Linked DNA regions of Homo sapiens: region 2 is linked to region 1. A link means that fine-mapping ties the variant in region 1 to the expression of a gene that starts in the linked region. Tissue or cell type: whole blood. Region 1 holds a variant in brackets; the other region holds the start of a gene. All regions are shown on one strand. Distances are between the middles of the regions.

Evidence for each region.
Region 2: it holds the start of CFAP161, and the variant in region 1 is fine-mapped to the expression of CFAP161 in whole blood (TOPMed, PIP 0.94).

What each region holds. Positions count from the first base shown.
Region 1 is chr15:81,076,866-81,093,211 of GRCh38, forward strand. LOC124903540 (a long non-coding RNA gene) reads left to right here and starts at 2,842. Exons shown (of 3, transcript XR_007064734.1): 1 at 2,842-3,270; 2 at 4,290-4,402; 3 at 5,412-5,625. The variant AG/A (reference allele first, on the strand shown) is at 8,536.
Region 2 is chr15:81,125,771-81,142,116 of GRCh38, forward strand. CFAP161 (cilia and flagella associated protein 161) reads left to right here and starts at 8,500. Exons shown (of 7, transcript NM_173528.4): 1 at 8,500-8,628; 2 at 9,500-9,589; 3 at 10,746-10,978; 4 at 12,281-12,365. The coding sequence starts at 8,560.

The sequences.
Region 1 (16,346 bases):
GCCTTTTACTCATGATGGCACATTTCTAGCGTGTTTTATGATTTATCATTGGGAAAATCTTGGGGCCTTAGCCACAGAACAGTTTTGAAGCTTGGTTCTAACACATGTTCATCAAGAGACAACATGAATTTCCTTTTACCAGATGTATAAGAGCACTACTAACTTTTGGCCCAGCGTGGTGGCTCATGCCTGTAATCCCAGCACTTTGGGAGGCCGAGGAGGGCAGAGATCACTTGAGGCCAGGAGCTGGTGTGCAGCCTGGCCAACATGGTGAAACCTCATTTCTACTAAAAGTACAGAAATTAGCTGGGTGTGATGGCACACATCTATAGTCCCAGCTTCTCGGGAGGCTGAGGCAGGAGAATCACTTGAACCCAGGAGGCAGAGGTTGGTCCACAGCACTCCATTCTGGGTGGCAGAGTGAGACTCTGTCTCAAAAAAAGAAAAAAAAAAAGCACTACTAATTTTTAAAGAATCACTTTAAATGTTTAAACATTAAAAAAAAATCACTTTACCCATGCCTATGTCCTGAAAGGTATTGCCTAGGTTTTCTTCTAGGGTTTTTATAGTTTTAGGTCTAACATTTAAGTCTTTAATCCATCTTGAATTAATTTTTGTATAAGGTGTAAGGAAGGGATCCAGTTTCAGCTTTCTACATATGGCTAGCCAGTTTTCCCAGCACCATTTATTAAATAGGGAATCCTTTCCCCATTGCTTTTTTTTGTCAGGTTTGTCAAAGATCAGATGGTTGTAGATGTGTGGTATTATTTCTGAGGGCTCTGTTCTGTTCCATTAGTCTCTATCTCTGTTTTGGTACCAGTACCATGCTGTTTTGGTTACTGTAGCCTTGTAGTATAGTTTGAAATAAGATAACGTGATGCCTTCAGCTTTGTTCTTTTGGCTTAGTATTGTCTTGGCAATGTGGGCTCTTTTTTGGTTCCATGTGAACTTTAAAGTAGTTTTTTCCAATTCTGTGAAGAAAGTCATTGGTGGCTTGATGGGGATGGCATCGAATGTATAAATTACTTTGGGCAGTATGGCCATTTTCACGGTATTGATTCTTCCTATCCATGAACATGGAATGTTCTTCCGTTTGTTTGTGTCCTCTTTTATTTCGTTGAGCAGTGGTTTGTAGTTCTCCTTGAAGAGGTCCTTCACATTCCTTGTAAGTTGGATTCCTAGGTATTTTATTCTCTTTGAAGCAATTGTGAATGGGAGTTCACTCATGATTTGGCTCTCTGTTTGTCTGTTATTGGTGTATAAGAATGCTTGTGATTTTTATACATTGATTTTGTATCCTGAGACTTTGCTGAAGTTGCTTATCAGCTGAAGGAGATTTTGGGCTGAAACGATGGGGTTTTCTAAATATAGGACTTCATGACTAAAACACCAAAAGCAATGGCAACAAAAGCCAAAATTGACAAATGGGATCTAATTAAACTAAAGAGCTTCTGCACAGCAAAAGACACTACCATCAGAGTGAACAGGCAACCTACAGAATGGGAGAAAATTTTTACAATCTACCCATCTGACAAAGGGCTAATATCCAGAATCTACAAAGAACTTAAACAAATTTACAAGAAAAAAATCAAACAACCCCATCAAAAAGTGGGCAAAGGATATGAACAGACACTTCTCAAAAGAAGACATTTATGCAGCCAACGGACACATGAAAAAATGCTCACCATCACTGGCCATCAGAGAAATGCAAATCAAAACCACAATGAGATACCATCTCACACCAGTTAGAATGGCAACCATTAAAAAGTCAGGAAACAACAGGTGCTGGAGAGGATGTGGAGAAATAGGAACACTTTTACACTGTTGGTGGGACTGTAAACTAGTTCAAGCATTGTGGAAGACAGTGTGGTGATTCCTCAAGGATCTAGAACTAGAAATACCATTTGACCCAGCCATCCCATTACTGGGTATATACCCAGAGGATTATAAATCATGCTGTTATAAAGACACATGCACAAGTATGTTTAATGTGGCACCATTCACAATAGCAAGGACTTGGAATCAACTCAAATTTCCATCAATGATAGACTGGATTAAGAAAATGTGGCACATATACACCATGGAATACTGTGCAGCCATAAAAAATGATGAGTTCATGTCCTTTGTAGGGACATGGATGAAGCTGGAAACCATCATTCTGAGCAAACTATCGCAAGGACAGAAAACCAAACACCGCATGTTCTCACTCATAGGTGGGAATTGAACAATGAGAACACTTGGACACAGGGTGGGGAACATCACACACCAGGGCCTGTCATGGGGTGGGGGGAGGGGAGAGGGGAGAGGGATAGCATTAGGAGATATACCTATTGTAAACGACGAGTTAATGGGTGGAGCACACCAACATGGCACATATATACATATGTAACAAACCTGTGCGTTGTGCACATGTTCCCTAGAACTTAAAGTAAAATAAAGAAAGAAAAAAAAAGAAAGAAAAACTACCTATTGGGTACTATGCTCACTACCTGGGCCCAACATACCCATTTAACAATCCTACACATGTGCCCCTGTATCTAAAATAAAAGTTGAAATTTAAAAAAAAAAAATCACTTTAAATGTTTGATTTAGGGGCCGAGCACAGTGGCTCATGCCTGTATCCCAGCACTTTGGGAGGGCAAGGCGGGTGGATCACCTGAAGTCAGGTGTTCGAGACCAGCCTGGCCAACACGGCAAAACTCTGTCTCTACTAAACATACAAAAAATTAGCCAGGCATGGTGGTGGATGCCTGTAATTCCAGCTACTTGGGAGGCTGAGGTGGGAGAATCGCTTGAACCCAGGAGGCAGAGGGTGCAGTGAGCCGAGATCGTGCCAGTGCACTCTAGCCTGGGCAACGGAGCGAGACTCCATCTCAAATTAAAAAAAAAAAATAGTTTGGCTTAAGGTTTTTCTGGACATGCAGATAATATAATTCTGACCTGAGGTCTGCATGTTGTGGGGAAACTTGTGGTTATGAATTCTCAGTGGGACTGTTTTCTTTTTACTTCTTTTTTCCAGAATCAGGCTGAATAGCCAGTTATCCCCGTAAGAGATATAAGGTAAGACATGACCCAGACTATGCCTCAATCACTTGTCATCATGGTAGTGATGACAAGTGATTAAGGCATATTCTGATTTATTTCAGGGGAGACCATTGGCATGAAATGTACGGATCCACACCAGCCTCTGCTTATGGTTCATTGGCTCCCTAAGAGTCTCTTGGCGTCTGCAGTGACTATGAGTGAATAACAGGTCACCCTTCTTGCTTAGTGAGTGGTTAAACTAGATCTAGATCTCAGGAACATGCATTACAAGGAGAAAGGGACCACCAGGTTCCTCAAAAAGTACATTCAACCTGGGCGTAGTGACTCATACCTGCAATCCCAGCACTTTGGGAGGCCAAGGTGGAAGGATCACTTGAGGCCAGGAGTTCAATATCAGTCTGGGCAATGTAGCAAGACCCCATCTCTACTATACACACATACACACACACATATACACACATATTCACATACATACATACACACACACACACACATTCACTGGAGTAGTAGATAAGAAATGATACGAGTGAAAGTCAACTGGGATTAGGAGGTTAATTTGGCTGCTTAGAGATATGGTCTAGAAGTTGTAAGGAATAAAATGTAGGGATGCCGATCCGAACAATTGTCTGATTTTTCTCTAGCTCGGCTTATCCCAGGGTGAAGGAGCAGAGATGGCAAATGCTTTAATTGGTGCCGATATGGGCACGAGAAGTTGCTGATGAGAGAATGGGTTGTGTGGCTGAGAAGGGGGCTCCACCAGTATAAGGAAGGGGGTGCAGCCAGGTGGAAGCTGTAAGGGCCTGAGGTCTTGAGGTATGAGGTAAGAGCTGATGTGGAGGGAGTGAGAGCACTAAAGAGATGGGAGGCTGTCATTTGGATTTAGTCTGAGAGAAGAGAAACAAAGGAGTCACCATGGGTAGCCCTGGAAAGATACAGAGAAAAAAGTGGTTAAAAAAATTAGAGAAGCTGAGATGAGAAGGCAACAAGGTCCCTCTTCAGGAAGCTTTTCATCCATGGTGCAGCCAACCCATTCTTCTTTTACCCACCACCATTTCTGGTCTCCTTGTAGGGACCAACTTCTGTATTGACAGAGATGAGCATGGAGGAGGCTCTCAAGTGCCCAAGGAATAGAAAATGGCCATGCTGTGTGATTCTTGTTCTTCCATCCCTTTGGCCAGTAGTCAAACTGTCACAAATAAAAATGTCATGGACTCCATCTGGCTTCTTCTATTGGATTTTTTTAGGAGTAGAGCAGATGGTTCACCCCGCAAGAAAGAACACTTGAGGTCATTTGCAAGTGGAAAGAGATTTGCATTTGGGCATGGAAAGGGCCGCTAGTATGGAAACATTCACACATGTAAGTTATGCTGAATCCTGTTTGAGGCTTACATGGAGTCTGAGAAGGATTTCCTGCTTCATCAGATTCCCCAGGTGTCATCTGAATGTTCCCAAGTTCTTCAGCTTCATAGAGTTGCTCTTTCATGTAATATGTCTTAGTTTGGGTTCCACCAGAAGTAGATCTTGAGACAAGGAATTTGAAGCAGATGTTTTATTTGGGAAGTGAACAGAGGGGTTGGGGGTAGTGAGACTGGGGAGGGAAGGCAGCCAATTAAAGGTGCTTTATCAAGCCAGCTGTCACCAAGAGTGACTAGAGCTTCACCCAGAGGGAAATGTCTGAAGCAAATGTAAAAGTACAGCTCAGAGTTGGCCCCTCATTAGTGGCAAGGGAGCTGGGGTATTTATATACTGGCTCCCATCAGTCATTGGTTGAGGGTTGCTCTGAGGTGCAAGCGGAGGCTGTGCTTTGATTCCCCTGTTCTTCCATCCCACTGCAATCGTCATCAAAAAGGCTGCAGTGAGAAGAGAAAGCCCCAAACCAGAAAATGAAGGGCCTGGCATTTGTAAACCAGCAGGTGTTATTCACTGAAGTGGGTAAGGTAAGGGTACTACCAACCTCTGCTAGGATAGTCAAATAAAATAGCTGGAACTCATCTACTTCACATGCTGGGAAGTCCAGCAGCCTCTTCAAAAGTCTCAGAGGATCCTGGGGCAGGGAGTGGGAGGACTTGTATTCTCTTGTTTGCTTCTTACTCTGTATTCCTGCTCTTGGTGCATTTTCATCTCTCCATTTGCCAACCCTCCTGCAATGGGAATTGTGATGGCTGCTATTTTTGATTTGCTTTATCAACAGTATGTACAGTTCCTTTTCCTGAAATCCTCAAAGCACCAATAACACTTGTGCAGATAAGGGACATTTACTAAGGAATTAGGAATCATAGAGGGGAATTAGAAAACAGCTCAGACAGATAGCATGCTTCACTTTCTGCTTTTTTTCTACTTCCATTTATTTCATGTTTATTTTGAAGATTCAATGGGCTCATCAATGAGTGTCACGGGAGACACTTAAGAAAATGCTGATGCACAGAAGCTCAGAAGAGGCAATTGCTGCCCTACCTTCACTCTGGACCACTTCTTCACCAGGTACTTTCTAGATTGCACATCACAGCCTTGTAGCTGGGTTCTATTCTCCTTGGGAGAGATGTCTCCATCTTTCCTCTTCTCCAAGGCTTGGAGACCACACCGTCCTTACGTCTTTTTTTTTTTTTTTTTTTTTTACATAGGGTCTCACTCTGTTGCCCAGGCTAGAGTGCAGTGGTGCAATCTTGGCTCACTGCAGCTTCGACCTCCCGGCTCAAGTGATCCTCCTGTGTCAGCTTCCCTAGTAGTTGGGACCATAGGCGCACACTGCCACACCTGGCTAATTGTTTATTTTTAGTAGAGACAAGGTTGATGAGGTCTCACTGTGTTGCCCAGGCTGTTCTCAAATGCCTGGGCTCAAGCAATCTGCCCGCCTCGGCCTACCGAAGTGCTGGGATTTTACAGGCACCATGCCCGGCTCCTTACGTCTTATTCTGTAAGGGAACAATCCCCAAATTCCTGTTCCTATGTTATGCAGCTCATTTTCTATTTAGGCTCACCTTTTATAGCTTAAGAAGACTCATCAACATGTTTTCATGAACAGAAAAGGAATAATTTTCTCGTTAAAAAACAAACAGGCTAGGCGTGGTGGCTTACGTCCGTAATCTCAGCACTTTGGGAGTCTGAGACAGGAGGACCACTTGAGCCCAAGAGTTCAAGACCAACCTGGGCACCATAGTGAGATCTCCATCTCTAAAAATAAATTTAAAAAATACAATGAAAAATAAATAGATAAACCAACTAACCAACCAACCAAACAAACAAAAGTGGGTCAAATGTAGCCAGCTTTTAAAGCAAATTTTTCCTTCCCTATGACAAGTGGCTACAGCGTGGCATGTGGATGAGTGCATTTTATCAATGATACTCTTGCTATCCCTGGTCAGCCACACCATGAGAGACAGGCAGCATGCTTCACTTTCTGCTTTTTTCTACTTCCATTTATTTCATGTTTATTTTGAAGATTCAGTGGGGCTCATCAATCAGTGTCATGGGAGACACTTAAGAAAATGCTGATGCGCACAGTTTCTGATTGATTGCAAAAGACATGGCTTTTGTATTCATTCACTTAACCTTTTCTGGGCTTCTACTCAATGCCAGGGACATTGACAGGTACTGGGGATGCAGATATGACAAGATGGTGTCACTATCCTTCAGATCCTACCGAATGGAAAAAAAGAGAGACACAATTCAGAGAGATGCACAGTGCTCATTTTGGAGTCAGAAGACCTGGGTTTGAGACCTAGGCCTGCTTTTTGCTAATCTCAACACCCTGGAGAAGTCTTACACTTTCTTTGAGGAAGATGTGGTCCAGAAAGCTGAACGTTTACCCTTGACTCCCCACAGGGTAGGGCCTGGAACCCAGGCATACCAGTGCCTGGTTCCACGTTCCTTTCACTGGACCATATGGCTTCTCGCTAGCTGGATGGTCGAAGAGAATTCCCAAAGTAGAAAAACAATTGTAAACATGAGCTTGCCTTTATGCCCAGAAGGCTTACATATCATACAAGTTAAAAGCACACATTTTCTTAAGCATTATTTTTCATGACTATCACTCTGATTAATAAAACAGAGATTTGGAGAGAAACACTCTTCCACTAACTGGGAAATTCATTAGACCAAGGATACCAGTGGCAACTTCATGCCAGCACATTTGTGGGATGTGGAAGAAAACAGAGAAACCCATTTGAAGGATGATTCTAGCTGCACAGCAGCTCCTGATCTGTTTTCCCTGATTCTTACAACTTATGAATAATTTGTTGAACAGTCTGAACTTGTTGTTGAGACATTTTTTAAAAAATCTCTACTCCTTGCCTTCAACTGTTCTATGACAAATCCCCAATTCCTCTTCCTTGTGGCATCTGGGGCAGATCTGAATGAAGCCTTGGTTGAAAAATCATCATATTGAATTTAATACTTTCTTCCTCCTCACTCCACCTGGCTTAGGCCTGCGGGACCTGGGACAGATGAGATTAGATTTCTCTTTTCCCTCCTCTCCCTCCCCCGGGTCACTCTTTTGCATTGTGTTGGGGGCTGGTGCTACTGTGGTGCTCTTTATGTCGATGGTTACTGCTTTTCCACCACGGCCGTTGGGTAGCAGATGCTCAGTGGCAGCCCCTCTGAGGGACTCACATGGGTATCTTGTAGTAGGCCCTTTAGAAAGAAGCCTCTGGCCAGACACGGTGGCTCACGCCTGTAATCCCAGCACTTTGGGAGGCCGAGGCGGGTGGATCACCTGAAGTCAGGAGTTCGAGGCCAGCCTGGCCAACATGGTGAAACACTGTCTCTACTAAAAATACAAAAATTAGCTGGGTATGATGGTGGGTGCCCGTAGTCCCAGCTACTCAGGAGGCTGAGGCAGGAGTATCACCTGAACCAGGGAGGTGGAGACTGCAGTGAGCTGAGATTGGTGCCACTGCACTCTCTCTCAAAAAAAAAAAAAAAAAGAAGAAGAAGAAGAAGCAGCCTCTGATCTGCACGGTTCCCTTATGTGTGAGATGCATGTGAGATGCGTTCTGGCCTGACCTCCTATCAGCTCCACCTTGATGGTGTCTAGAGCTTCCCCTTGCTGCGGTTCCCTCACCTGCTGGCCATTGCTTTTGAGTGGCATAGTGGCAAGAAGGCTTGGTCCTGGCTACTTGTATTGTGCCCACCACTCTAGGACAAATGTACATATCTTTGATTCTCCAAATAGTGGGAATTTAAACTGCCACCTGTTACCCTGCTTTTCATCTGCGATTGTTTCTTCAATTCTCTCTCCCCCGGCTGCTTTAGGCATGGAAGCATGACACCTCTTACACTGCACAATCACTCAACTTAGAGTGAGACATTAGTTCTCCTCCTTTCAAACCACCCAGTCACTATGAAGGGTTCTCTTGGACCACCCATTATTTGGTATGGGGGTTAGAAAACCCCCAGAACTTCCCAAATAGTTCTATGACTTACGATTCCAATGACTCTCCAGATTTCCTCCCCACCACACCCCAGTCCTTATCTCCTTAATACAGAGACTAG[AG/A]GGGAAGACGTGGTAATGGGCTCTGCTTCCTCTTAGTCATCTCTGGAGGGGGATGATAATTATTCAGAATGCAAAAGTCTATTTTTTCCTCAGCATAATTCTAGATGCAATAAAAAATCCCACACAACACCCTAATACAATTAAGGTAATGAACAATTCTCACTCTATCAAAGTGATACAGGAATGAATTCAGGGTGATGCACAGATGAAGAGAATGAAGCTTAGGTCTCAGATGCCTTCCCCCATGCAGACCCCTTCCAAGGCCCTGGGGAGGAGCCCTCATAATGTGTTCACATGTTCTTATGTTTTTATACAATTTGAACCAATACATATTTTAAATCACATTTGATTAAGACCACCATTGCTATCCACTCTGGCTTCCCCTCTGTTAATTTCCGCTTGTGTCTGTTGATGTCAGAGCAGCTGCAGGTATATTTAGGATGTAAAATTGGCTTAGAAATACATCTATTAGGTGAAAAGTAATCACAGTTTTTGCCATTTCAAGTAATTGCGAAAACCGCGATTACTTTTGCACCCACCTAATAGTTTGAGTTTGATGGGATATATTTATGTCATTCACAGCCACTTCCATGTAGAGTTAAGTTATTGTTCCCTATTCCTTTATAGGAATGGTTTTTGGGAACACGCCTACCATTCATTGTCTGACTCAGTGCCACCTTGTCACTAAGGTGCAGGGCGGGGGTTGTAGCCCATAGGTACACATCCCACAGCAGCCAGTGCAGGAAGTATGTGGGTACTGGTGGAAAAACAAGGTTTGAAATACATTCAGACTCAGCTTAGATCATCTTCTCATGCAGCTGTAACAGAAACTCCAGTGATCTGTCCCAATTGGGAAAAGAAATTCTGATTTAAAAGTTTGATAAAACACCCTCCTCTGACAAAGACAAGTTCCTCTCATATACAAAAGAAATTTGACTGAGGGTTTTCCAGATTGTATAATTCTAAAACTCTATGCAATAGAACTAATGCGAAGTTGTGAAATGAAAAGAAACCTTTATAATTTATTAAATGGTAATGAACAAATTTTGATCCACCAGGCCAGATGAAAGATTAAATTAGCTTTTTATTCTTGCTACAGAAGAAGATACTGAAAACTGTCATTGTGTGTGAGGAGATCAATGAATAGGCAGCCAAAAATGTAGGAAAAAAGGGTTGTAGAAGCAGTTAATTAGTAAAAATTAGATTTTTTCAATTTATAAATTTGTGGCATTTCTGGCTTTCTAAACATTTGTGATTTGTTTCAGTTTTTTCTCTCATTTGAAAATATCCCTTTCATATCTAATTATATAATTATATGTTGGTGGTTTTATATTCTTTCTCTTAAAGACAGTTTCTTAATTTGTTTAAACTTTAGGAATCAGAAGGTTGGATTGGCTATTGGTCGTCTATTGTGTATTTTGGTGCTACAAGATGTCATAAAGGTGCCAAACTAGTTCCATGCATGTAGGAGTTTTAGGATCTCATTAAAATAGTTTTGTTTTGTTTTGTTTTGTTTTGTTTTGTTTTATCATGGAAGAGAGTTCTAATGAAGTGAGCACTTTTCCACACTGCAGGTGGAAGTATAATTGGCTGGACTCTTTTGGGTTTGATTCTTTTAATGATACGTAACAAAAGCCAAAAATAGTGCATGACCCTTGACCTACACTCCTGAGAATTTATCCTAAGCAAATAATTCATAAGAAAAACAAGCTCCAAACCTCACTACAGCTTTACTTTGTAAAATTTGTGAGGCAGCTTAAATATCCAGCCATCAGGGAGTCATTCAGAAAATGATGATGTCTCAGCCTTCAGTTAGTTCATCAACATGAAAAAAATGCTTACAATATGTTGGGTAACACATTACAAAATGTTTCCCATACGGTGACAACAACATGCCAAAACAAAAAGGTCTGCATTTGGGCAATGACTAGAAGGGAATACGATGGTTGTTATGTCTAAATGATAGGACTAAGAGTTTGTTTTCTTTTTGCTTTTGTTTTCTTTCTGAGATCGAGTCTTACTCTGTAGCCCAGGCTGGAAGACAATGGCGCAATCTCGGCTCACCGCAGCCTCCACCTCCCGGGTTCCAGTGATTCTCCTGCCTCAGCCTCTCAAGTAGCTGAGACTACAGGCACTCCACCATGCCCAGCTATTTTTTTTATATTTGTAGTAGAGACAGGGTTTCACCATGTTGGCCAGGCTGGTCTTGAACTTTTAACCTCAAGTGATCCACCTGCCTCAGTTTCCCAAAGTGCTGTGATTACAGGCGTGAGCCACTGTGCCCTACTTCTTTTTGCTTTTTTTTTCTTTAGTGTCATGTTGAGTTTATGTTTTTTGGTAAAGTGAAAAAAGAATCCAAATGCTTTGGGTGTCTGCTGTCTGGGCTCTCCCCACTTTACTCTTTCCTTTCCCCTGCACTTTCTGATCTCCCTCACCCATGCATGCAGGAACACATACATACACATGCACCCACACACACACACATGCACACACACAGGTGCATTCTCATATACTTTCACACACATGCACATGCTTTCACACATGCTCACACATTCAGACACACTCACATGCCCTTTCTCCAACTTTATTCTCCCTGCACTCTGGGATCTACAGTGTTTGCTCCATAAACAACTCTGGACGGCCTTAACCCCTTACATGCCACTCTGTAAGGGCTGTTTTCTGAGCTCAGTAGTGTCCTACTAGGCATTGTCCAGGTCTCTTCACACTGATGAGTCTACAGGCTGCCCTTGCAGGAGTTGCTCTGATTTCCACCATCACTCTTCCCCGAACCTCTGCCTAACTGCCTCACTGGCCCCCCAAAACCTGTATACCCTAGAACTGCTTTTTGTTTCTGTAAGTTTCCAGAGGACTTCACTCATCTCTGTAGGTTAACTAGAAAGGTTCACAAAACATGTCTGGTATCATCACGGCATGTTGCTTAAAGTGATGGCTTCATAGCTGGGGTCAAATCAACCCAGAGCCTACCTCACTGCTTGTTTGCTACATGACCCAGGAAAATCGCTTTCCTTCAGGTTCTTCTTCTTTAAAATGTAAGAGTTGGATCAGAAGGTTTGTAACATCCCTTCTAGCTCTGATTCCATGATTTATAACCCGTGCATATTTCTTATTAGTTCTGTTTTGTAGTCTGCTGCAGCACTGTGCGATGGGATGGCTGATACTGCCTGGGGAAGTTTTCAGAGGCCGTGGGGGCACAGCTGCTAGGGCAGAGCGTGGGGAGTGTGAGTTTCTGCCTCATATGGTCTGGGGCTCCAGGTCAGCTGTTTTTTATGCAAAGGATGGTATTCATTTTGGCTTTTGAGTGCAGAGAAAATCTAAGAGGCTAAACATTTGTTTGTGGATAAAAATCACGTGCTTAATGGAATAACTTAAGAACTCTTGTGATGCAGGGCCAGACTTCCAGGATGGAGGCAGCCAAGACAAGACAAGGAAAAGAGACTTACATGCACTTTCTAGCAACTTTATTCTCCCTGCCCTCTGGGATCTACAGTGTTTGCTCCATAAACAAGTCTGGATGGCCTTAACCCCTTACATGCCACTCTGCAAGGGCTGTTTTCTGAGTTCACTAGTGTCCTACCAGGCATTGTCCAGGTCTCTCCAGACTGATGAGCCTACAGGCTGCCCTTGCAGGAGTTCCTCCGACTTCCATCATCACTCTTCCCCGAACCTCTGCCTAACTGCCTCACTGCCCCCCAAAAACCCGTATACCCTAGAATGTCTTTCTTTTACTGAAGGCAATGAAGTAGGCTGTAAGCATATATGCTGGGAGCCTAAGAACTCAGTGAAACTTGCGTTTAATGAAATAGTGTGCTTTGTGGATAGGATTGTGGTTACCGAATACAGAATGAAGAAAATGGAAGACCTTTTTTAGGGAATGAGCATTCCTTTATTTTGTAATAAGTGCAGTCTGACGAACTGTGTACGTAAAGTAAGCCTCTGACAGAGAAAAAAGACGAGTTATAAGAAGGGAACTTGGGGAGAGCATAGTTGTAATTACCCTAAAAGTGGGCACCCAGATGAGATGAGAGGGTTGAGGGGAAGTCTGGGATAGCCAGCCATTTAATGACACTGGAAACATTTAGTAGACATTTTTCCCTCTGGTTCTCTACCCCTTACCCTGGGACCAAGATTTATTAAGGATAGGGAGGATCTTGGTCATGGATTTGTACTGAATCTGTACTGGCTCGGGACCAAGAAGGGAGCACCCCTGGTTATGGGAAGGAGTCAATGCTTTTGAGGAACCCATCTCTTACTCTTCCCCAGACTGAGCCAGATAGTTTATTGATTAATTTATTTATTAATCTTTATTGAGTCAGCCTTTATGGTGATGGCTACTGCTGGGGATATAGAAACAATGTGTCCTTCAAGAAGCTCTTGAGCACTTTGATGAGAGTTCTATGACATGAGGTATAGGCAAGAGAGGTAAAGGCAAGATTAGGCAAAGGCTACTTAGGGGAGCTATGTGCACAGCTGACCCCAGGTGAGAGACACCCTCAAGGAGGTGTGGCTCACTAATGCACACATGCTTTCCACCGGGGACAACTGCATTGCCAAGGACAGACAATAACAAGACTCGAAAATAGGACCAGTTGCTGGTAGAGTTATAATTCAAATTCAAGTTTGTATGTAGCAATTGTAACACAAACCTATGTTCAATGCCAAATTCTTCAGAATGGATACAGAAAATCTATGCCCAGTGAGATCATAGGGTGAAATATAAGTAGATTTCTTATTGCATTACTGTACTATTGACCAATTGTTCAACAGCTTCACTGGGGAGAAAACATGTAGAAATGGGCTTGCGTTGTAATGAAATAAAAAACATTCAGGTTAATTGAAGGAGGAAGAGTCATTATTAAGTAACTAAAATGTACACAGACTTTGCTCCAGGAGATCTGGAAGGATGGAATAAAGAACTCTCAGGAGTATAAGCCTGGCTCATGGCAGAAAACTAAATTGAATGTCCTCTAAGTTGAAAATGCAACAGAGATCACTGTGGCCTCATTTTAAATTTTCCACATCATGAGCTTAGGGGATGGAGCCCCAGAGTTAAGAGTTCTTCCCACTCAGTCCAGCAAGAAGTGGCTTGGATAGGAGAAATGTAACTGGGACCATCAGGCATAGGACCTGCAAGAAGCTAAGGGTTAGAATCCTGTCCGCCTCCCAGATACCATGATTCCATTTATTTGAAGTTAAGAATCAGCAAAACTAATCCATGTTGATAAAAATTAGAACTGCAGTTGGCTAAGGGGTGGACTGGGAAATTGACTAGAAAGGGAAACATGGGGGCATTTTCTGGGGGTGATGGAAGTATTCTTTGTCTTGATAGGGGTGGTACCTTTTTCAAAATTCATTAAATTATATGCATGATATCTGTGCATTCCACTGTGTGTAAATTTTACCTCATTAACGATATAGAATTAGTAGGGGAAATTATTTAGAAATATTTCTGAATGGCAAAGCAATGGCAACAAAAGCCAAAATTGACAAATGGGATCTAATTAAACTAAAGAGCTTCTGCACAGCAAAAGAAACTACCATCAGAATGAACAGCCAACCGACAGAATGGGAGAAAATTTTCGCAACCTACTCATCTGACAAAGGGCTAATATCCAGAATCTACAATGAACTCAAACAAATTTACAAGAAAAAAACAAACAACCCCATCAAAAAGTGGTCAAAGGACATGAACAGACACTTCTCAAAAGAAGACATTTATGCAGCCAAAAAACACATGAAAAAATGCTCACCATCACTGGCCATCAGAGAAATGCAAACCAACACCACAATGAGATACCATCTCACACCAGTTAGAATGGCAATCATTAAAAAGTCAGGAAACAACAGGTGCTGGAGAGGATGTGGAGAAATAGGAACACTTTTACACTGTTGGTGGGACCGTAAACTAGTTCAACCATTGTGGAAGTCAGTGTGGCGATTCCTCAGGGATCTAGAACTAGAAATACCATTTGACCCAGCCATCCCATTACTGGGTATATACCCAAAGGACTATAAATCATGCTGCTATAAAGACACATGCACACGTATGTTTATTGAGGCATTATTCACAATAGCAAAGACTTGGAACCAACCCAAATGTCCAACAATGATAGACTGGATTAAGAAAATGTGGCACATATACACCATGGAATACTATGCAGCCATAAAAAATGATGAGTTCATGTCCTTTGTAGGGACATGGATGAAATTGGAAATCATCATTCTCAGTAAACTATCGCAAGAACAAAAAACCAAACACCGCATATTCTCACTCATAGGTGGGAATTGAACAATGAGAACACATGGACACAGGAAGGGGAATATCACGCTCTGGGGACTGTTGTGGGGTGGGGGGTGGGGGGAGGGGGGAGGGATAGCATCGGGAGATATACCTAATGCTAGATGACGAGTTAGTGGGTGCAGCGCACCAGCATGGCACATGTATATATATGTAACTAACCTGCACATTGTGCACATGTACCCTAAAACTTAAAGTATAATAAAAAAAAAAAAGAAATATTTCTGAATGGCCCATACTTCAAAAGGGAAACAATAAATCCTCCGGCTAAAGCCCTAACCTTTAGAGGGTGATGTCAGAAGGAACACCGGAGACTGGACGCCGGAAGACCTGGGTGCTAGACCTGGCTCTGCTGGCCTTTCATGATGGGGAATTCTGTTTTCCTCTTTACCCCTGCTTTGTGTATCACTCAAGGAGTTTTACGAGGAGATCGCTAAGCTCTGACATTGCGAGACACCTTGTCCCTACTTTCTGAGACAGAGGTTGGGCACGATGACCCAGAGGTGAGAGTTGATTTGGTGATTCTTGTGATCTGAATCTCTTCCATATGTCTAGTGTCAGCCCAGCTCAGGGAGCAGAGAACACGGGCAATCTGATACCTCCAGGAAGTCCAATGCTTCGTTGTTGCTAAAATTAGAACCAGGCTGCAGCTTAGATCAAGGCCATTCCTTTCCCAGCCTCACGGTGAGCTAACTCTTCTCCCTCCACCCTGCACCGTACAAATGTGCCGGTAATTATAGCAACATGAGCACCAGATGATTCATCTTGGAGTCTGGAGGAAAAAAGCAGAAACCAAGTTAGAGCTTTACAGAGATCCTGACCCTTATAGACAAGGAGATGAGAGTAGGCAAAAGGAGAAAACAAATGAGACAAGAGGGAAGGAAGAAGGAAAGAAGGAGGCAGAAACAATTGAAGAGAATTAACTTCTTAGCCTGGACAGGAACATGAGCGGAAGACCTAGTTAGTTCCTACTTACCCTTTGCGGCTGTGTTGGCAGCGTACCAAATGACTTCCCCAAGGACAGTGGTCCATTCTTTTTTGAAAAATAACTTCAAAAAATGAAATCATGATCTTTCCTGGTAATGCATTTCAGTAGCTTGCTTGTATCTGTGTGTCAGTACGAATGGAGCTGGAGCTAGGCTTGATCCCAGCTTTGATACAGATTAACCATGATCTCGAGCAATTTACCTAATTGTTTGCACCTCATTTTCTTTGTCATAAAACAGAGAGATCTACCTCAAAGCACGCTGCGCAGCTAAAATAAGGTCAAATATATGAGACTGCCTGGAAGGTTCACACAGGTTGGCCCAACCTAGGTTTAGCTGAAAACATATGTAAAAAAGATTGTCTAATCTAGGTGGTCTTTGTTTCTGCCTCTGGGGATCTTAATTTATCATAGGTATCCATTTCTGAGGTTGTTCTGTGGTAGTTTCTTTATCCTATATTTCTCTAATCATCCACTAGGTTTGCATGCAGATGGCAAGACTAAAAGTT
Region 2 (16,346 bases), 49 kb after region 1:
AAACACATATACACACTCAAATAAAAATCATATAGCTTTCATTTTAGTATTAGAGTCATGAGATAGTATAACAACTCATTGTTTTTTTTGTTTGTTTTTGTTTTTGTTTTTGTTTTTGAGATGGAGTCTCGCTCTGTTGCCTAGGCTGGAGTGCAGTGGCACAATCTCAGCTTACTGCAACCTCCGTCTCCCGGGTTCAAGTGATTCTCTTGCCTCAGCCTCTGGAGTAGCTGGGATTACAGATGCACATCACCATGCCCAGCTAAGTTTTGTATTTTTAGTAGAGCTGGGGTTTCACCATGTTGGCAGGCTGGTCTCAAACTCCTGACCTCAGGTGATCCAGCCAGCTCAGCCTCCCAAAGTCCTGGGATTACAGGCGCGAGCCACCATGCCCGGCCAACTCACTGGTGTATAAAAGAAAGTGAGATCCAAATTATATTTCTAACAAAATTGAGATTTGTTCACATTGCTAAACTTTATTTGCCCTGATAGGTAATTGAATGAAGGCTGAAGATCAAAATTTTGGGTAAAGCAGTTTCCATGTCAGTTTGATTTTGAAAAACTTCCTTCATCTTATTTTTTTTTAGCTTCAAGTGAGTTCAAGGTTAAAATTTCAATATTTACATTTTATCTAGGATTGGCTGAATTGTATAAGAAAAATGAAATCTCCAGGTAGCCTTGAACAAGTAACAAATCTATTTGCTGATCTGGTTTACTTCATTAACAAATGTGGGCAGGGAAGAATTTGAGCAGTTTATTTTTCTCTTTTTCTCAGCTTTTTCCTTTTGGCCTCAGTGTAGCCAAAAAGTAAAATTTTTATGCTGGACAGATACCTTACGTTATTGCTCTGAGCTCAAGATTTTGACCTGTTTGATCTGAGAGCCTAATTTTTATAAATATTTATCTATTTCTTTTCACTTTAGATTATTAATTTGTCAGTTAAGTATTTTATCATTGCACACAATTGTTAGGCAAAACTATTTTATGTTTCTAAAAGATATCAGGGTTGTTGGTTAGCACGGAACTATTGGAATTTGCAAAACCATTGATTTGAAAGTTCTTAAAGACTTTTAAAAATCTTTGCTTGAATGCCATAAGTGGTGAGTTTTATCTTAACACCAGTGGAAAAGTCAGCAAATTCAAAGTAGGTAGAAAAAAATAGAGAGATAGAGAACATGTAAGACTCTCCATTTTAACTCTATATTTGCAGGTTTTTTGAATAAAGACCGTTCGAACTCTGAATTTTCCTTGATAGAATTTGCCTATCAGTTTGAAAATGTACACAAGAACAGGCCATAATATGTAGCTGGCTGGAGTCCCAGAAAACCTGGCATGCCTTAATGTTTGTGAATCCCATTCTGTTTCTTATTAATCTCTCAAGAGCAAGGAAAATCCAAAAATCATGTCAGAGAACATCAGGAATTTAGACCCGTGTTTTAGATGATGGTGATTGCCCTGTGGCTTTTAATTAGCCATCCTGCACCCACCATCCAGAGTGTTTATTTTTACTCTCAGAAGATTTTCAGAAACAAGTAAGGGAAAAAGTCAAACAAAAGCAAAAAACCCAGATAAGAATGCTCACAAACATTTTAACCTAGGTGTGCAGATCACACAAAACATTAAACTAGGTATGCAAGCTAGACCAAAATTAAATTTACCAGAAGATATGCCTCAGAGACAGAATGTAAATTCTGTGGAAACCAAGAGTACTCAATCTGGAAAAAAACATTTGTATTTATACCAGAAAGGACATATCAGAAAAGGCAAAAAGTCTTTTTTCATCCCAAGAATGATGTATGTTTTTTCTTTTTTTATTAAGGTGGGCTTATCTAAATCAGATCCCAAATAGTATTTAAAAAGCCTCTACCAAAAGAAGAGGAGGGGCTCAACCTGAGAGAAAACTCACCAGGGCAGAAAAGATGACAGCCATGGAAGCAGAGCTCAAAGGACTGAAGTGAGTACCACACACTGGTTCCAAGAATCACTGATTCTTCCCAAGACTGATCTTTTTCAGATCCCACTTTTGACACCATATATGTCACCCTCAATAACAAATAGAGAGAGGCTCTCTAAAAGAAAAGATACTTATCTGGGGACAGAGCATTGCAATGGGACTATGCATGCCATAGTAAACTATGTGTGTATTCAGGGAGGTAAAGAAAAGATAAAGGTTTTTAAAGGAAAAGATTAGGACTACATAGTTGTTTTTAAATAATTTTCCTTGGTTACAAAGATCAATAACAAGGTGACACCAGTCCAAGGTTGGATAGGCAAGTGTTGGGTAGATGGCCTTGTAGAAGTATTTTTTGTATAAGGTGGTAATGACCTTTGTGTAAGGCTGTGGTTTTTGTAGAATCTTTTCGTTATCAGGCATATAAGTGTGAGAACCCTCTCTTTATGGTCTTTCCCAGCTCTATTTGTCAGAATTATCTTAACATTAGTGACTCTGTTTTAATTCTGACAATTTTCATACATGAAAAATTTCTCTGTAGCATGTGATGATGTTTGATAGCATTTCACCCATGGTAGAACTTCTTCTGAAATTGGAGTCAATCCTCTCAAACCCTGCTGCTGCCTTATCAAATAAGTTTATGTAATAGTCTAAATCCTTTGTTGTCATTTCAGCAGTGTTATAGTATCTTCACCAGGAGTAGATTCCACCTCCAGAAACCACTTTACTTGTTCATTCATAAGCAGCAACTCCTCCTCAAGACTGCAGCTCCATTTTTAATTCTTCCCAAGAGTGATCTTTTTCAGATTCCACTTCTTCAGGCTCCATTTTTAATTCTAGTTTTCTTGTTATATCCGTGACATCTGCAATTACCTCCTCCATTAAAATATGGAACTCCTCAAAGTCATCCATGAGGATTGAAATCAATTTCTTCCAAACTCTCATTAATGTTGATATTTTGACCTCCTCCCATGAATCACAAATGTTCTTAATGGCATCTAGAATGGCAAATCCTTTCCAGAAAGTTTTCAATTTACTTCACCCAGATTCATCAGAGAAATCACTATCTTTGGCAGCTATGGCCTTAAAAATGTATTTATTGGCTGGTTGTGGTGGTTTATGCCTGTAATCCCAGCACTTTGGCAGGAGAATCGCTTGAACCCAGGAGGCAGAGGTGAGCCAAGATCACGCCACTGCACTCCAGCCTGGACAACACAGCAGGACTCTGTCTCGAGAAAAAAAAAAAAAAGCATTTCTTAAATAATAAGACTTGAAAGTTGAAATTACTTCTTGATCCATGGGCTGCAGAATGGATATTATGTTAGCAATCATGAAAACAATATTAATTTCCTTGTACATCTCCATCAGAGCTCTTGGGTGACTAGGTGCATTGTCAATAAACAGTAATATTTTGAAAGAAATCTTTTTTTTTTTCTAAGCAGTAGATCTCAACAGTGGGCTTAAAATAGTCAGTGAACAAAGCTGCAAACAGATGTGCTGTCATCCAGGCTTTCTTCTTCCAGTTATAGAGCACAGGAAAAGTAGATTTAGCATAATTCTTAAGGGACCTAGTGTATTATTTTGTTTTCATGCTGCTGATAAAGACATCCTGAGACTGGGTGATTTATGAAGAAAAAGAGGTTAATAGACTCATTTCCACATGGCTGGGGAGGCCTCACAATCACGGTGGAAGGTGAAAGGCACATCTCACATGGTGGCAGACAAGAGAAAAAAGAGCTAAATTAAAGGGGAAACCTCTTAAAAAACCATCAGATCTCATGAGACTTATTCACTACCACGAGAACAGTATGGGGAAAACCACCCCCATGATTCAAATATCTGCCACTGGGTCCCTCCCACAACATGTGGGAATTATGGGAGCTACAATTTGAGATGAGATTTGGGTGGTGACACAGCCAAACCATATCACCTAGGATTTTCAGAATAGTAAATGAGCATGGGGTGCATTAGCCACTAACAAGATACTCATCCTGTTCTCTGAAGCTTTGAAGGCAAGCATTAACTTTTTCCTCTATGAAAGTCCTAGATGACATCTTCTAATGTAAGTCTTTTTTGCCTACATTGAAAATCAGGCATTAACTTTTTTCTCTGTGAAAGTCCTAGATGACATCTTCTAATGTAAGGCTTTTTTTGCCTACATTGAAAATCAGGCATTAACTTTTTTCTCTGTGAAAGTCCTAGATGACATCTTCTAATGTAAGGCTTTTTTTTTTTTTTTGCCTATATTGAAAATCTGTTGTTTAGTGCAGCCACCTACATCAATGATCTTAGCCAGATCCTCTGGATAACTTGGTGCAGCCTTTACATCAGAACTTACTGCTTCACTTTGCAGTTTTATGTTATGAAGATGGCTTTTTCCTTAAACCTTCTCTCAGTCTTTATAGACTTGAAAAGAATTAGAGCCTTGTTCTGGATTAGGCTTTGGCTCAAGGGAATGTGGTGGCTCGTCTGACCTTTTATCTAGACCAGTAAAACTTTTTTCATATCAGAAACAGGCTGTTTTACTTTCTTATCATTTGTGTTTTCATTGGAATAGCACTTTTAATTTCCTTCAAGAACTTCTCCTTTGCATTCACAACTTAGCTAACTGCTTTATGCAAGAGGCCCAGCTTTCAGCCTATCTTGGCTTTTGACATGTTTTCCTCACTCAGTTTAATCATATCTAGCTTTTTATTTAAGAGACAGACTTGGCTCACGCCTGTAATCCCAGCACTTTGGGAGGCCGAGGCAGGTGGATCACAAGGTCAGGAGAGTGAGACCATCCTGGCTAACATGGTGAAACTCCCTCTCTACTAAAAATACAAAAAATTAGCTGGGTGTGGTGGCATGCGCCTGTAGTCTCAGCTACTTGGGAGGCTGAGGCAGGAGAATCGCTTGAACCTGGGAGGTGGAGGTTGTAGTGAGCCAAGATCGTGCCACTGCACTCCAGCCTGGGCAACAGAGCGAGACTCCATCTCAAAAACAAAAACAAAAACAAAACAGAGACAGACATTTGGCTCTTCCTTTCACTTGAACACTTGAACACTTAGTGGCCATTTTAGGGTTATTAATTGTCCTAATTTATATATTGTTGTGTCTCAGGGACTGGGAAGGCCTGAGGAGAGGGAGAGAGATGGGGACATGGCTGGTAGGTGGAGCAGTCAGAACACCTAACATTTATTGATTGGATTTGCTATCTTATATGCCCATGGTTCATGGTGCCCCAAACAACTACAATGGCAACATCAAAAATCACTGATCACAGATCACCATAATAGATATAATAATAAGGAAGTTTGAAATATCTTGAGCATTACCAAAATGTGACACAGAGACGTGAAGTGAGCGTATGCTGTTGGAAAAATGGCTCCAACACACTTGCCTGATGCAGGCTTGCCAAAAACCTTCAATTTGTAAAAAAAAAAAAAAAAAAAGAATCAATATCTGCAAAGTGCAATAAAGTGAATTGCAATAAAATGATGTATTCCTGTATCTAAAATGTCTAGTTTTCAACAAAAAATCATGAGACCTGCAAAGAAACAGAAAACTGTGATCCACAGACAGAAAGAAGATAAAAAACAAACAAACAAAAAAGTCAACAGAAACTGCCTTTGACAGAGCCCAGATGTTGGACTTAGCAGACAAAGACTTCAAAGCAGCCATTATAAATATGTTCAAAAAACTAAGGGATACCATGATTAAAGAATTAAAGGAAGGTATGATGATAGTGTTTCATTATGAAATATAAAATATCAATAGAGAGAAATTATAAAATATAACCGAATGTAAATTCTGTAGTTGAAAAGTACCATAACCAAAATAAAAAACTCACTAGCGGAATACAGCAGTAAGTTTGAGCCAGCAAAACAAAAATTTGCAAACTTGAAGACAAATCAATAGAAATTATGCAATCTGAAGAACAGAGAGAAAAAAATGAAGAAAAACAAATAGCATCTTGGAGGAATGCAGGATATCAGTAAGTGCATCAATATACACATGATGGGAGTTTCATAAAGACAGAAGACAGACAAAGGATCAGAAAAAATATTCCAAACAATAAGGCCTGAAAATTCCCCAAATTTGATGAAAAGAGCATTAATTTACATATTCAGGCAGCTCAAGCAGGATAAAAGAAAAGAGGTCAATATCCAAATATATCTAGTTAAAATATTAAAGACAAAGACAAAAAAAATCTTGAAAGCAGCAAGAGTATGTGTAAGGGAAGCAAAATAAGATTAATAGCTGATTTCTCATCAGAAATAATGGAGGCCATGGCTGGGCAGGGTGGCTTATGCCTGTAATCCCAGCACTTTGGAAGGCTGAGGAGGGCCGATCACTTGAGGTCAGGAGTTCAAGACCAGCCTGGCCAACCTGGTAAAACCCCATCTCTACTAAAAATACAAAAATTACCCAGGCATGGTGGCACATGCCTTTAGCCCCAGGTACTCAGGAGGCTGAGGCATGAGAATTGCTTGAACCTGGGAAGCAGAGGTTGCAGTGAGCCGAGATTGTGCTGCTGTACTCCAGCCAGGTTGATAGAGTGAGACTCTGTCTTGGAAGAAAAAGAAATAAGGGAGTCCAGAGGTAGTAGGATGGCATATTTAAAATATTGAAAGAAAGAAAAAAACGCTATCAACAAAGAATCATGTATCCAGAAAAAGCATCTTATTAAGGTAAGCAAAAACCAAGAGAATGTGTTGCTAGCAGACCTGATTTATAAGAAATATGGAAGGAAGTTATTCAGGTTGAAAACAACACAAAGCAGTAATTTGTGTTCATAGAAAAATACCATAGAGCACCAATAAAGATATTTCTTCTCCTGAGTGATTTAAAGCAATTGTATAAAACACTATGTATAATTGTATTATTGGGTCTATTATATATAGAAATGTAATATACTTGTCAAAAATAGCACTAAGGAAGTAGGTGGGAGCAAAGCTGTATCAGTGTAAGGACTTACTGAATGACCCAATCATTAGAACCTTGTTAAAAATGTAGAGACTAGAGCTGCTTTGTTTTATTCTTGATTTTATGAGGAATATGAAAAATACTTAAAAGGAAAAACAAACAAACATGACTTTGGAGTCGGAAAGTTTGGACTGAGTCCTTTCTTTGAGCAACTTTTAGCAGTTTGAATTTAGACTGCTAGCTTCTTTGAGTCTCAGTTTCTGAATTTATCAAATGCAGTTAGTGGTATACTATCTGATCTAACTGCTTTGTCCTATGTGTCCTTCAGAAGTATCCTCGAATGTGGTGATATATTGACAGAGCTGGTGGATTCATCAGAATGTGGGAATGTTCCTATTTTTATTCTACACTTCAGCCTGCCAGTTCAAATCCTTCCCAGTTCAGCTCCAAAGCAGCCCCTCTCCCATCACTCAAAGGCCATCCAATTCCCATTCTCACAGTTCCTCAAGACAGAAAGGATCCTTCAACTCCATGGCCCTTCATCAGCATATATATATATATATATATATATATATATATATATATATATATATATGTATTTTTTTTTAAATTGGAGATGGGGTCTCACTATGTTGCCCAGGCTGGTCTAGAACTCCTGGGCTCAAGTGATCCTCCTGCCTCGGCTTCCCAAAGTGCTGGATTATAGGCTTGAGCCACCACGCCAGCCCATCAGCACATCTTTAATTGCATTTTTCCACAGTCTTCCTTAAGTAATTCGTTTTCATGAACTATCTTTTCTTTTAGACTGGGTTTGCTGAAGGGAGCGGAGGCTCCTGTCTTCCATTTCAGTCATGTCTTACTAGACACTAAATAGAGGTAAATTACTGAATGCATTCAATCTGCATCAAGCCTCCGGTAGTCCTACAGTAACTGGTATCCCTCCCCTCCCCAGAAAATAATATTTTGTTTTATTAATGCTGGCTACAGCAGAGTCTGGTTTTCTTAAGAGTTCCTGCAAATCACAGGTTCGTCCTTTAACTTTGAGACCCAGGGAAGGAGGGAGCAAGGGAGGGAGGGAGGGAGGATGCTGTCAAGTCCGCAAAAATATGGACAACCTCAGAAACCTATAAACAGAAATATACTAACATGGTATATTTCTTACTTTTAAGGCCCTGAAATTATTAATTTTCCTTTCTTCTTTCTATGCGATTTTGGTTTCCAAATGTGTACATTGAGCAGGTATTGTTTTATGATTAGGGCGAAATTGCTGCTGCTGCTGCTGCTGCTGCTGCTGCTGATTACAAAAAATAGGCTGCAAGCAAGCCGTGCTTCCATTTAAAAGCTCCTCTTTGTTGCCTCGACAAGCAAGGGGTACTCGATAGCACTTTTCGGTTAGATTCTAATAGAAAGAAAGCTTTAAATTTCTCTCTCGGAAGCACTTTGTCAGCCAGGGTTTTCCCTCTCGCCCACCCTGCAGTTAAGGAAATCTAAGAGGTGGAAGTGGGGCGGGCTGGAGGGCCACAGACAGCCGCTGACCCAGACGCCCCATCTCCCGCCCCAGGGCGAGGGTGCGCGCTGTCGCTTATTGGCCAGCAGGGTCCCAGACCTTGACCAATCGCCTGGGGCCGGGTCGTCATGGCGACGCGCCACGCTAACGCATGGTGTCGGAGGGAGGCCCACTTGCTGAACAGCAGGGAGCGATGGCGCAGAACGTGTATGGTCCGGGAGTCCGGATAGGCAACTGGAATGAGGATGTCTACCTGGAGGAGGTACGCAGGGTGTGGCCAGGCGCAGACCCGCAGCTCAGGAACTCCCAGACCCTGCTCTAAGTTCAGTCTCCTACTTTGAGCGCCTCAAGCCTCCTCTCTCTCCCAGCATACAGCGAATACCTCTAAAATCCCCCACTTCTCTAAACTCCCAAGGAATCTCACCTGCCGAACTGCAAACCCAGGTCTCACTGACCTCTACTCCGAGCACCCTGACTTTTCTTTCTCTGGGTCCCTTGGCCTCCCAAAGTCAGATGCCTTGACTCTCAAGCCCCTGGCCTGTGTCTCCCGCTTAGTCTAGAGCCCCACTAAGTCCCCCGTATTCCTTAGAGTCTTACAGTCTCAGGCTGCGGGCCAGGTGAGGACACAGGTTCTAGGTAGAAATAATATCCCTCCCCACTCCAACCCTGCCACGCTTGCCCTCTTAAATGACCCTGAGTATTCCTTTTATTGACGTTGTACTCACTCACTGCCTCGTATTCTCCCAAGGGTGGTCTTAACAAGGCTTTGAGCCATTCGTATACGGGTCAGATTGGGGAGGGGTGAACTTTCTAGTGTCAGTCATCATACGGTCAAGGGAAACCCCAGCAGGGGAGACATGGCCTCCAAATGTCATTTAGGATGGTATCTGGCTGGAGTAATTACTGGTGATGTTTCTTTTTCTTTGTTTTGCCTTTCTCATTTTTCTAAACATTCTATAATGTAGTAAAAATATTAAAGTAGTGCTAAAAACGTTCCATCATTCCAATTATGCTCACATCTCTTTTTTTGTACTCAAATTTTGCTTTTTCAACTTGGAAGAGCTTCTGACCTAAAAGTTATTAATACTAACATCTATATTATTCAGGGCTACTTTTGTTGATTTTCTGTTTAGGAGCTCATGAAAGACTTCTTAGAGAAGAGAGACAAGGGGAAACTTCTCATACAGAGAAGTAGAAGACTAAAACAGAATCTCTTGAGACCGGTAACTTTTTTTTTTTTTATTACACTTTAAGTTTTAGGGTACATGTGCACAACGTGCAGGTTTGTTACATATGTATACATATGCTATGTTGGTGTGCTGCACCCATTAACTCGTCATTTAACATTAGGTATATCTCCTAATGCTATCCCTCTCCCCTCCCCCCACCCCACAACAGGCCCCAGTGTGCGATGTTCCCCTTCCTGTGTCCATGTGTTCTCCATTGTTCAATTCCCACCTATGAGTGAGAATATGCGGTGTTTGGTTTTCTGTCCCTGCGATAGTTTGCTCAGAATGATGGTTTCCAGCTTCATCCATGTCCCTACAAAGGACATGAACTCATCATTTTTTATGGCTGCATAGTATTCCATGGTGTATATGTGCCACATTTTCTTAATCCAGTCTATCGTTGTTGGACATTTAGGTTGGTTCCAAGTCTTTGCTATTGTGAATAGTGCCGCAGTTGGTGGGACTGTAAACTAGTTCAACCATTGTGGAAGTCAGTGTGGCAATTCCTCAGGGATCTAGAACTAGAAATACCATTTGACCCAGACATCCCATTACTGGGTATATACCCAAAGGATTATAAAACATGCTGCTATAAAGACACATGCACACGTATGTTTATTGAGACCGGTAACTTTAAATTCAGACATTGTTTTCAAAATTCTGTTGAACTTGGTGTGAGTATATGTTAAGCAAGAAAAAAATTTCATAACTGAGTTACCATTTGGAAAATAACAGTTTTTAAAAACAATTTGCAATGTTTTAAATTCTTCTAAGATTTTAGAAACATAAACAGTCTGCCCTAAATCATGTTTACCTGCATTTTACAAATAAAGAAATAAATGAGTTAATATGTAAATAAGTAAAATGCCCCTTAGTTGGTAATCGACAAATTTTTCAATGAATGTTGAATTTCTAGGATAATGAGTAAATCCATGTGATTTTAACCAGCTTTATTCGACTTCATTTGGAATTATTGGGAGCTTTGCCTTGGCAAAGGGGAAGGGAAAGGAAGAAGGAACTAAGGGTTCGAGGGAATCCAAGTGAAATCCTGAATGAAATGGGTACTAGTCCGAGAAGGAAGAAAATTGCCTTGGCAGTAACTGTTGAGGAATTGCATGGTTTATGTAATAAACTACTATCAAAATTGTAGATGCAACTTTCCGTAACTGAAGATGGCTATATTCATTACGGTGACAAAGTGATGCTTGTGAATCCTGATGATCCTGACACAGAAGCTGATGTGTTTCTGCGTGGGGACCTGAGCCTGTGTATGACTCCAGATGAAATTCAGTCCCATCTGAAAGACGAATTAGAGGTACCCTGTGGCCTGAGCGCAGTTCAAGCCAAGACCCCAATTGGCAGAAACACTTTTATCATTTTGAGGTAAAGAGACTTTAATTTTCAGTTCATTTTCATCATAAATATGTTTCACTTGTAGCTTAAAGATTCCTGGGTATTGGAGCCACTGAGTGGAGGGAAAGGTTTTGTGAACATTTTTCGTGATTTTCATCTTGCTTTGCTTACCTTGAGAATTATTGTCAAAGGAACTTTACAATCCCTTTTTACCTTAGACAGCAGGATAATTGTGTTCAATTCAAAATGCTTAAATCATGAGTATAGGATCCAGGGAATTAAATCCATATTCTGCCTGGAAGCAAAGTAGGTTTTCCCTATAACATTTTGGAACTTTTTGAGCTCATTTGAGTGTTTTCATTGTTCTTAATACGGCTATTTTTTTTTTTACAATAAAAACGTGTAGTTTAATACAATGTGGCACTAGATGGGATTTTCTCTTTTAAAATTAACTGTCCATTAAAAATGTATTTGAAGAGATTTTGAAAATGAACAATTAAATCCTTAGAGAAGAAATAGATACATGATCACAATTAAAAACTATTACTAATTCGTATGACAGCAATGTAAGCATTGCAAGAATATATGGACCCAGGCAAGGTACAGTGGCTCATGCCTGTAATCCCAATACTTTGGGAAGTCAAGGCAGGCAGATCACCTGAGGTCTGGAGTTCGAGACCAGCCTGGCCAACATGTCGAAACCCCATCTCTACAAAAAATACAAAAAATTAGCTGGGCGTGGTGGCAGGCTCCTGTAATTCCAGCTACTTGTGTCACTGAAGCATGAGAATCACTTGAACCTGGGAGGTGGAGGTTGCAGTGAGCCAAGATTGCACCACTGAACTCCAGCCTGGGGGAAAAAAAAGAATATATAGACAGTTCTTCAAGTTCTAATTTAGATTTCCTTTGAATACATATGTTAAGACAAGTAAAAATTGATCACAACCTCTGTTATCCTGAAGGATTAAGAGGGAACCGTATTAAATGTCTACAAATGTGTTACCTTGGTTCTCTCTGAACATGTCAATGCACTTGACCAGAATTCCTTAGTATACATTAGCAAGATGTGCTTAGTTTACTCTAACCAGAGGCTCACAAAGTGGGGATGCTTTGTGTGCTAGCTATGGTGCAGGGCAGGGAGTAGGGTGCTAGCTGGATTTTAAGACCAAAAGAAAACACCTTTTATTTAATTACCTAATTCAGTTACAGTATGTGAATATAAATTATCAAAAAACTGATTATAAACAAAATTGCATGCATAAAAAATAGAGTCATAGAATGATTCTAATACAGAGAGTTTACATTTACATTATACTTATTGTCCACTGACAGTGTACACAGAGATGCCACTGGTCAAGTCCTTAGATATGGGCAGGACTTTTGCCTGGGGATAACAGGAGGATTTGACAACAAAATGGTGAGTTATCACTTTGCATATCTACTTTGGATCAGTCATTTCTGTTGCCCAAAATGGGATCATAACTATCTACTGAAGTGGACAGAGAACTCCAGAGTCATGGGCTCCACCTCTGACTTCACTATGGTGTCAGCTTGCAGCTTTTCACAGGCAGTTTTGGGCCAAGCCAGTCTTTCCTTTTAACTTCCCAAATTACAAAAACTACACCCTTAAAACCTAAACAGTAAGGGAGGAAAACCATTTCACAATGCAGCTGGCAAAAAGCAAAAGTTTATACCACTTCCACCTGTAAATTAAATGATTGAATTCATTAATAACCATCTGATACCTGTCAAATGTTGCCAATGCTAGCAAGGCATATTATCTGACAACTTTTTTATTTAAACTTTTGATGATCAGACTTTTGCTTAGTATGGGAGTAGGGACAATATGAGATGCTTAAATTTGCATAAATCAGGGAGCCTTGGGGATTAGGAAGTATAATAGAACCAGATAGATTTGGGTTTGAATTTCAGGTGCGTACCTATGGGATGGGAATTTGGGTAAGTTATTTAATGCTTTTTGAGCCTGTTTCTCATCCATAAGATGGTGAGTATTAATCTACCTTACTACATGCCAGGCAGTGTTGTAAATGCTTCACATATTTCAACTCTCCTAATCCCCCAAACTTGCCTTTGAGGTAGGGACTATTTTACCTTTAATTTACTGATGGAAAAACTGAGGCACCAAGAGGTTAAGTGATTTCTGACTCAAGTCACTCAGTTAGCAAGTAGCAGAGCTAGTACTATATCACATTTTTTATTGAATTAAAAATCCATTTACTATATGATGTAGCGTTATTATTATTATTATTTTTGATACCACTAAGAAAACACAATGCTGCCTGCTGGGTGCAGCGGCTCATGCCTGTAATCTCAGCACTTTGGGAGACCAAGGCAAGAGGATCACTTGAGGCCAGGAGTTGTAGACCAGCTTTGGCAACATAGCGAGACCTCATCTCAACTAAAAATTTTAAAAAAATTGGCCAGGTATGGTGACGCGCTCCTGTAGTCCCACATACTCATGAGGCTGAGGTGGGAGGATTGCTTAAGCCGGAAGGTAGAAACTGTAGAGTTTGCACCACTGTACTCCAGCCTGGGTGACAGAAAGAGACCCTGTGTCAAAAAATAAAAATAAAAATAAAAAATAAAAAGAAGAAGAAACGATGCTACCAATTAAACTTTGACACCCCACAGATGGTAAGTTGCAGCCTGATAAATATTGACTTACTGAAAAAAGGGAGTAAATTACCATTTCTTAACCAGAGATTAGCACCATTAACATTTTGGTTTATTTTTACTTTCCTGTGTATTTTTTTAAAACTTAGATAAATATACAGATAGGTTATTCTTTCTAAAATAGCATTTTTAAAGCTTTTTAAAATGACGAAATCATTTAATGAGAGCATAAGATATAATTGTGTGGCGGTATCATAATTTACCTAGTCTTTCTTCTACTTTTGGGCAGTTGGGTTTGGTCCAATATTTCTCTTTTATATGTAAAGTTCCAGTGTGCATTTGTGTATAAATGCTTAAATCTTCCCCTCTCAAACTTCAAATTAGGAATTCTACCTTTAGGATAGATTTTTGGGCAATGAATTACTAAGTCAAAGAATATGAACACATTTAAAAGTATTGATACATATAAAGAGTTCTTTTTGTAATGGGGTGTACCAATTTGCACTCTCAGCAACAGTAAGAATGATCATATACTGCTTCATTAATTGTATTAAATATCATAATTTAAAACTTTGCTAATTTGACAAGCAAACAAAATGAAAAGAAAAAATGATATGTAAATGTTGTACTACTTGTAATTTCTCCTATATTTTAAGTTTGTTCTCTTTCCCTTATCTCTTCCTTTCTCTCTCGCTTCTTTTTTCTTTCTCCCTCCCTCTCCTCTCTCCTGCAAATCATCCGTTTTTTGCCTTTGTGTTGATTTGGGTTTATATACCATTGATTACTAAATTTTGTCATATGTGTTGCTAATATTTCCATTTGCTGCTTGGCTTTTAAATTGTAGTTGTTCTAATATTATATTTTTGAGTAAAATGTAATTCCTTCCATTGCTTTTATGTTTTTAAGACTGCTTCAGAGATCTGATAAAAAGAAAAACTAGAATTAGCTTCTAGATGTTTGCAATTTGACTTTTGCTTACATTTATTATTTAATCAACTTGGGATTTATTTTGATAAAGGGTTTTATGTGAACATCTCATTTTGTCCCAGATGACTGGTCAGTTATATCTATTATCCCTTGAATGATTATTCCTTTCTCTACAGGTGCATGACATTTCCCTTAGCATATATTAAATTACTGTATATACTACCCTGTGCTTCTGAGCTTTCTATTTTGATCCATTAAACCCTAGTTGTCTATTTCTTTTTTTTTCCTTTTTTTTTTGAGACAGGGTCTCACTCTGTCACTTAGGCTGGAGTACAGTGTCACGAACATGGTTCACTGCAGCTTCCACCTCCCAGGCTCAAGCAATTTTCCTGCCTCAGCCTCCTGAGTAGCTGGGACCACAGGTGCACACCATTATACCTGGCTAAGTTTTTAAAATTTATTTATTATTTATTTATTTATTTATTTTTGTAGAGACGGAGTTTCGCCATGTTGGCCAGGCTGGTCTTGAACTCCTGAGTTCAAGTGATCCTCCTGCCTCCACCTCCCAAAGTGCTGGGATTACAGGCGTGAGCCACTGCACCCAGCCCAGTTCTCTATTTTTATTCTAGGACTATAGTGTCTTAATTATTAGAGCTTTATGATAGGGCTCATAGCCCTGTGACCTTGACAGCTCATAGGGCTAGTTGCCTCTCATTACACTTCTTTGTCTGAATTATGTTAGGAATTAATTTCTCAGTTAAATATAATGGTTATTTTTTTCAAGTCCTTCTGCCCCTGTGGGGAAAAGATTACTTGGTATTATATTTTGATTGGCATTGTAAAATTAAGTAAATTCACATATTTAGTAACTTTGCCATATTTATTCTTCTGAGATGTCTCTCCATTTATTCTGTCAGCAAAATTTTCTATCACCCAGTAAGATTTTGTGGTTTTCTTTACATGGACTTGACAATGATTTTGTTAAGGGTTTTTCCTTGGTATCTTGTATTTTCAGATGCTATTGTAGAGAGGTCCTTTTGATAGAATAAGGATAGAACATTTGATAGAATAAAGGATAATTTCTCTTATAAAAATATAAGAAGGCTATTGATTTTTATATTCACCTTTGATGAGATCACTTACTCTTATTAATTCTATAGTTTTTTCAGTTGATTTTTTTATGTTTTCTGGGAAGACAGTCATTTAATCTTCAAATGATGACAATTTTCTCTCTTCCTCAATTCTTATACCTCGAATTTTGGTTTCTTGTCTTTGAATTAGCAAACCCTTCTGGGGCATTCATAGAAGCGTTGGTGAAATAGTGGCCTACTGGGTTAGTTCCTGATTTTATTATGGTTTTACTTTAGGTGAACAAGGCAGTTTGTGGTTTGAGACAGATAGTATTTGCCTTTTTTTTTTTTTTAAGTTGGTGTCTCACTCTGTTGCCTAGGCTGGAGGGCAGTGGTGTGATCTCGGCTCACTGCAGCCTCTGCCTCCCGGGTTCAAGCGATTCTCATGCCTCAGCTTCCTGCGTAGCTGGGATTACAGGCACCTGCCACCACACCTGGCTAAGTTTTGTATTTTTAGTAGAGACAGGGTTTCACCATGTTGGCCAGACTCTCTCGAACTCCTGACCTCAAGTGATCCTCCTGCCTGAGTCTCCCAAAGTGCTGGGATTACAGGCATGAGCCACTGTACCTGGCCTTATTTGCCTTTTTAAATTCTGGTTTTCTTGTTGCTCTGAAAGGCACCATCATCCAGGGCCAATGGCGAATCTATCTTGGGCCCATCTCCCTTCCCCACCCACGTCCAGCTGATTACCAGGTCTCTTCCGCTG